Linked DNA regions of Homo sapiens. The protein of the gene in region 2 interacts with the protein of the main gene of each other region in a biochemical or structural test. Each region holds a gene or a part of one and is shown on either strand. Other genes may lie near its edges. The genes, in order: MAP2K2 and PDZD8.

Region 1 (3,816 bases), on a different chromosome or scaffold from region 2:
CACCAGGTTTGCCCTGCAGAGACCCCCCAGGGTAGGGGTTAGCTACCTAGGGAGACTCCATCTGGCCGTTTGCTATGTGGCCGTGGTGCATCGGCCCCCAGGAGGACACAGACTGGATTCCTGCACTTGAGGGGTTCATGGTGTAGAAGGAAAGGATCCATGCTGTGTACCCCCATAGACACACCAATGACCAGAATCCAGGGCGGCTCCCCGGGAACTGAGGACGCTGCCTTGATCCTGTCTCAACAAGTCTAGCAGACCTCAGGACCTCAAGGATAAGCTGCAGCTCAAAGGACCCAGGAAGCCTCCGTCTTTTTCTTTTCTTTTTCTTTTTTTTTTGAGACGGAGTCTCCCTCTGTTGCTCAGGCTGGAATGCAGTGGCGCGATCTCGGCTCCCTGCAACCTTGGCCTCCCGGGTTCAAGAGATTCTCCTGCCTCAGCCTCCCAAGTAGCTGAGATTACAGGCTCCCGCCACCATGCCCGGCTAATTTTTGTATTTTCAGTAGAGACAGGGTTTCGCCATGTTGGTCAGGCTGGTCTCCAACTCCTGACATTGAGTGATCCGCCTGCCTCAGCCTCTCAAAGTGCTGGGATTATAGGCGTGAGCCATTGCACGCGGCCGGGAGACCTCCTTCCTAACGCACGAGCTCCGGACCATGTCGGGAGGAGACGAGGAAGCTGGGATCGGGTGAACGGAGCCCGGGCCAAGATGTCTGTCTTTGCAGGAGATAGAGGAACAAGCGTTCTGAGCAGCCTCAGAGCACAGAATGAGAACCAAGAGTAGAGGGCAGAAGGCTCAGCACAAAAGCTGCATCAGGTAGGCACGGTGGTGCACGTTTGCAGTCCCAGCTACTTGGGAGGCTGAGACACGAGAACTGCTTGAACCCGGGAGGGGGAGATTGCAGTGAACTGAGATCTTGCCACTGCACTCCAGCCTGGGCAGCAGAGGGAGGCTCTGTCTCAAAACAAAACAAACCAAAAAACAAAAAAAACAAAAAATAAGCATGACCAGCCTGGGCAACAAAGTGAGACCTATAGCCGAGCACAGTGGCTCATGCCTGTAGTTCTAGTTACTCAGGAGGCTGAGCCCAGGAGGTCGAGACTGCAGTGAGCCATGATCGTGACAATGTACTCCAGCCTGGGTGACAGAGCAAGACCTTGTTTCTACACAATAAAAAATTTCTAACAATTTAAACAAGCAAGTACATTGCACTTTATTGGGTGATTCAAGGAATCTTCAGAGGAAATTTCGACAGTAAGCTATTTTCACAAATGCCTTGACTCAGAACCAGATCCTGGAGTAACAGACAACTAAGCGCAATGCACACAGGAACCCATTGCTGTGCACAAGCAATGGAATGTAAACCATGCGCACAAATTAAAATCTTCTAGTACCCATGTTTAAAAAGAACAGGTGAACTCACTTCATTTATTTAGAGACAGGGTCCTGCTCTACCTCCCAAGCTGGGGTGCAGCGGCACGATTACAGCTCACTGCAGCCTCCAACTCCTGTCCTCAAGTGATCCTCCCACCTCAGCCTTCCTAGTAGCTAGGATCACAGGTGTGAGCCATCATGTCTGGCTCTTTTTAATTAATTAATTTTTATTATTATTATTATTTTCTGAGACAAAGTCTCATTCTGTCGCCCAGGCTGGAGTACAGTGGTGTGATCTTGGCTCACTGCAACCTCCACCTCACGGGTTCAAGCAATTCTCCTGCCTCAGCCTCCGAAGTAGCTGGAATTACAAGCACCCGCCACCACGCCCAGCTAATTTTTGTATTTTTAGTAGAGACAAGGTTTCGCCATGTTGGTCAGGCTGCTCTTGAATTCCTGGGTTCAAGCCACCTGCCCACCTTGGCCTCCCAAAGTGCTGGGATTACAGACATAAGCCACTGCACCTGGCTGAAATTAATTTTAATAACACATTTGATTTAACCCATCAAAAATGTTATCATTTTCAACGTACAACCAGTATGAAAAATGAATGAATGTTTCACACTGTTTCCGTCTTAAGCCTTTGAAATCTACAATGGCATTATTGCGCCTATGCTCTCGTGGGTTTGGGCAATTCTTGTTTTATGTGTTGCCTGTAGCCAGGGGCTACTCAACCAGGCAGTGCAGCTTTAAATGGCTCTCTGGAAGAACAGGCCACCTCCAGAGGTCCCAATTCAGGAAGGAGCTAAAGCCAAGGTGGACAGCCAGAGAGGGGACTGAAGCAGGGAATGAAGGCGTGGACTGCTCCTTCCATCTGGAAATTTCCAATCCCAAAGTTCGACCACTGTTCGCCTACAGCTGGAAGTGGCGTAAGCCACGGGGCACACAGGCCAGAACCGAGGCGATGGCGCTGGAGCTGGTGCTGCAAAGAGCTCGCTGGAAGGCAGGGGCCTGGGCACCGCTTCCTGGGCTGGACAAACACCATCTCATTCCATTCTCACCATCGTCCCCGGAGGCCCAGGCAGGAGGGAACAGACTCACAGGGGTGGGGGAACCTGCCCGAGGTAACAACACCTGCCTGAGGTCAGGACAACCCCTGCTCATCTTAGTGTCCCCCATGAGGGGAAACAGGGCCCTAGTAGGTGCTCACTGAGGAGCTGCTGAACAAGGACCCAGAAGAAGCAGAAATGGCGAGACCCTGGGAGTGGGACAGAAGGTAAGGAGGGGAACATGAATGAATGAATGAATAACATCAATGAATAAATGAATATTTATTTTTTTTGAGACAGTCTTGCTCTGTCGCCCAGGCTGGAGTGCACTGGCACGATCTCAGCTCACTGCAACCTCTGCCTCCTGGGTCCAAGCGATTCTCCTGCCTCAGCCTCCTGAGTAGCTGGGATTACAGGTGTGCATCACCGCGCTCAGCTAATTTTTTTGGCATTTTTAATAGAGACGGGGTTTTGCCATGTTGGCCAGGTTGGTCTTGAACTCTGGGCCTCAAGTAATCCACCCACCTTGGCCTCCCAAAGGGCTGGGATTACAGGCGTGAGCCACCACACCCAGCCATGAATGAACACTTCTGATGGCAGACTTGGAAGGTCTCAAGTACTGCTCAAAACATTGAAAATGCATTCTGGAGTCAGCTGACTAATCCATCTTAAATTTACTGGCAACCCAACTGTGGTTATTAAACAAAACAAAACAAAACCTTGGCGTCCCTACAGCCAGCTTCCTCTCCTGGGGGAATCCTTCAAGAGATGGGAATCAAACCCCACACGGAAGAGAAATGTGAAGGGCGAGTTCTGTGCAGAGAATGAGGAACGGGTCCCCGTGTCTGGCTGTGCCCGTGTTGACTTGCACACATTGGCATCAAGAGTCTTCATCTGGGTCACAGAAGGCCGACCCCCAAGCGGGAGAGGCCACCAGACATGCCACAGTCCCTGACACCTGGTTCTTGAGGGGTCACACCGCAGGCACGGCACCCGGACCCCAGCCAAGGGCCCCGGGGATCGCCCTGCCCTGCCTCGGCCTGCAGAACGGGAGTGCAGAGATCACCCTGGCATGACCCCACCAGTGTGTGCCCCCAACACCCAGTCCCCTCCCTCGTCCTGGAGCAGTGCGATTCTGCCAGCACGCCACCCGGACCCCAGCATACCCCTTTCTCAGATCCCTTCACCCAGGCCTCTGGTCGCCCTCCACCTCCTCAAAGCTTCTGCACTGGGTCAGCCCCTCACAAGGGTTTTCCGGTCCACTCACTTCAGAATCTGCACCTCTGCTTTCAGGGGCCAGCAGGGTCCCCTGATCCCCACGCCTCCTCGTTCCTCACACTCTGGCTTCCCTGTCTCCTCACACTTCCAGCTTCAGGGACTCCACACACTGGG
Region 2 (3,816 bases):
CAACCTCCGCCTCCTGGGTTCAAGCAATTCTCATGCCTCAGCATCCCCAGCAGCTGGGACTGCAGGTGCGTGCCATTTTTAGTAGAAGCGGGGTTTCACCATGTTGGCCAGGCTGGTCTCGAACTCCTGACCTCAAGTGATCCACCCACCTTGGCCTCCCAAAGTGCTGAGATTACAGGCATCAGCCACCACGCCAGGCCTGACAATGTCTTTTATTTATTTATTTATTTATTTTTACTTTTTGAGATAGAGTCTTGCTCTGTTGCCCAGGCTGGAGTGCAGTGGTATGATCTCGGCTTGCAGCAATCTCTGCCTCTCGGGTTCAAGCGATTCTCCTGCCTCAGCCTCCTGAGTAACTGGAATTACAGGCATGTGCCACCATGCCCAGCTAATTTTTGTATTTTTAGTAAAGATGGGGTTTCGCCATGTTGACCAGGCTGGTCTCGAACTCCTGACCTCAAGTGATCCGCCTGCCTTGCCCTCCCAAAGTGCTGGGATTACAGGAGTGAGCCACCGCACCTGGCCAACAATGTCTTTTAAAAAATAAAATTGCTCTATGACAGTCCCTTCAAAAATGTAATTAAAAGAAGGATAAAAATGATCACTCTCCCTCTCCACTCCAGCTATTAAGTCTTCTCATTTTCACTAATCAGCAACAGTAATGCTCCCTATTTACTCCTCCAGTACGGGTCTCAAATTCATATAACTCCAAGCCAGGCAAGTACCATCAATTAAGCACAGCAAATAAGGGGGGACTATAAACTCCACCTAGGAGCTTACACACCGAGTTTCAACCCCAAAGCTGCTACTACAGTCCATCTCTCCATCCTGTTGTTGCTCTGAGAAATGCAGCACTGGCGCTACAAGATATTCCAATTTTTCCTAACAGAAGCCACAAATCCAAAACACACAGAATTTTCCATTTTTTAAACAGTGCAGGCCAAATTAAAAGTACCTGCAAACTGAATCTGCTTGTCTATATACAATAATACTCCAGGAACACAAGCATCCGTAAGAATCTCAAATATTTGACTCCTAAACCCTAAACAGAGCTCCCCACCCAGACACTATTACTCAGACTCCATGTTTAAGATGAATTATCCACGTAGTAAAAGAACATTAGTGGTAATCTTTCTCCCTTGAGGATGGATTCTGAGGTTCATTTAAAAAAATATATTGCTATTATAATATACTATTTTAATTAAAAAATCAAACCAATTAACATTGAGGTGGATGAATGAAATTCCTAACTTGAATAAATCTGTAAACATATTGTCTACATATTATAATTCATTTTGTAAAATAAAATGTTTTACAAACATTGTAAGTTTGTTAACTTGGGTAAAATGAAATGTCAGTCAGCTGGGTCCTTAGAAAGCAACCACTTGAGCAACTTAGCATCTCTAGGTGAAACATCAGGAACTGGCAGTCCAGAGAGGCTGATTCACTTTAGCAACACGAAAAAGGCAAAATAAATGAAGGGGGAAAGAAGTAATAACAACGTTAACTGGCAAGATATTTGTTATGTAATGATTACAAATGCCAAAGGATCGTAAGACTCCATACAATTCTCTTTACTGCTTTAGCTCTACTAAGAAGATTAGATAGCTAAAAAAGAATAAACTAGGCCGGGCACAGCGGCTCACACATGTAACCCCAGCACTTTGGGAGGCCGAGGTGGGTAGACTGCCTGAAGTCAGGAGTTCGAAACCAGCCTGGCCAACATGGTGAAACCTGTCTCTTCTATTTGGAAACACAATTCTGCTCAATTAAAAAAGAAATGCCACGTGGGACAGTACCCAAAGATTTAGCCTCATGATTTACTTTTAAAAGGATCCTCTAAAATGACCAATTTAAGAAAAAAAAATCAGCTTTATAGTCATACTCTTCTCAAGAGTTCTAGGTTAGTTTGGAAAGATATCCCACATATTTACTATATCGATGGCATGCTTTTAAAAAATAAATCACTTAAGAACAACATAGTTTGTGTGTGTGTGTGTGTGTGTGTGTGTGTGTGTGTTTAAAGGTGGCCTGGCCTTATCAGAGCTGCGTTTCAACACTTGAAAGCTGTGTGACTTTAAGCAAGTTATTTAACTACTCCGAGCTCCATTTCCTCATCTGTAAAAAAAGATGAACACTAGCTAGTTTAATTTTCCCTGTGAGAAGTATGCTATATCTTAGATGTATTGTAATTCATTCTTATCTGAAACTTGAATCAGTCCCACATCATCACCAGTTTGTTTATTTATTTATTTACTTATTTATTTTGGAGACGGAGTCTCACCCTGTCGCCCAGGCTGGAGTGCAGTGGTGCGATATCGGCTGGCTGCAACCTCTGCCTCCCAGGTACAAGCCATTTTCCTGCCTCAGCCTCCAGAGTAGCTGGGATTACAGGCGCCCGCCACCACGCCCAGCTAATTTTTGCATTTTTACTAGAGACGGGGTTTCATCAGGTTGGCCAGGCTGGTCTCACACTCCTGACCTTAAGTAATCCGCCTGTCTCAGCCTTACAAAGTGCTGGGATCACAGGCGTGAACCACTGCACCTGGCCCATCACCAGTTTAAAACACTGGACAGAACAGCTACACAGACAAGAAGTCATCACTTGCTGAGGCAGCCCTTTTCATCGTCATACTTGCTATTTTCTTCTACTAAGCTAAAACCGGCTTCCTGGCTACTTCAACCCCATCAATCCCATTCTAGTTTAAATCTTACAAAGCGCCGGGCAAGGTGGCTCACACCTGTAATCCCAGCACTTTGGGAGGCTGAGGTGGGAGGATCACTTGAATGAACCCAGGAGTTCCAGACTAGCCTGGGCAACAAAGCAAGACCTATCTCTACAAAAAAAATTTTTTTTTAATTAGCCAGGAGTGGTGGCACACACCTGTGGTCCTAACTACTTGGAAGGTTGAGATGGGAGGATTGCTTGAGCCCAGGAGGTCGAAGCTGCCGTGAGCCATGATCCTGACACTGTACTCCAGCTCTGGGCAACCGAACAAAATCCTGTCTCAACAAACAAACGAAAAACACAAAAAAATTACTAAGTATAGCTAATTCAATTCTCACTAGACTCTAAGCTTCCTGAGGGCTGAGTTCAAGTATTGTTCAGTACTGAAATCCCAGCATCTACAACAAGGATAAGCATATAGCAGGTGTACAATAAACATTTACAGATTGAGTGATATGCTCTGTGCAGCTGACTGAGCATTGAGATGCCATCCAGTATAAATAGCACAGATGTGCATACTTCTGGAAATGATCATTTAATGCTTCACATTTAGAAGTTGAAATATCATAACCAAATTCATGCTGTTTTTAAAAAAATCCCTTCAAAGTGAAAAGCAATTTTGCCATACTTTTAAATGGTTGTTATTCAATGATACAGATAATAGTTTTTCAAAGTAATAAACTTCTCAATGCCTCCATAACTTATTCATAACTTACTTCAGATTTACCTAAATTCCAAGTCTACATTAAAAAAAAAATCTCAAAATGATATGTAATCTCACTGTCATTGGCTAGTCTACAAATTTCAAAATAATAATCTAGTCAAATTGTATTAACTGAAAGCTATCAGAAAACATCATAATTGAAGTTGTGATAGAATACCAAAATTTCTAGCAACTTTTTCTCATGACTTTTTTGGCAACACACTGCTATAAATAAACATCTCTCACTGCTTAAACACTAGAACCGAGTTATAATTTAATCACTGATATTCCAGAGGTTAAAAGTAGGTTTCATAAAGTATGTTCTACTTCACAGAACCAGAAATCGAACACAGTGAACAACCAGTTCACCACCCTCCGCAAATCT

The links.
Region 1: the proteins of PDZD8 (region 2) and MAP2K2 interact in a test that uses a peptide from one of them, tested with the Homo sapiens proteins (one large-scale study listed by IntAct).

Annotation. Positions count from the first base shown.
Region 1 is NC_000019.10:4,117,617-4,121,432, forward strand, and holds part of MAP2K2 (dual specificity mitogen-activated protein kinase kinase 2), read right to left. Parts: intron 14-3,816; coding exon 1-13. UniProt on the Homo sapiens protein: Catalyzes the concomitant phosphorylation of a threonine and a tyrosine residue in a Thr-Glu-Tyr sequence located in MAP kinases. Activates the ERK1 and ERK2 MAP kinases.
Region 2 is NC_000010.11:117,368,934-117,372,749, forward strand, and holds part of PDZD8 (PDZ domain-containing protein 8), read right to left. Parts: intron 1-3,816. UniProt on the Homo sapiens protein: Molecular tethering protein that connects endoplasmic reticulum and mitochondria membranes. PDZD8-dependent endoplasmic reticulum-mitochondria membrane tethering is essential for endoplasmic reticulum-mitochondria Ca(2+) transfer.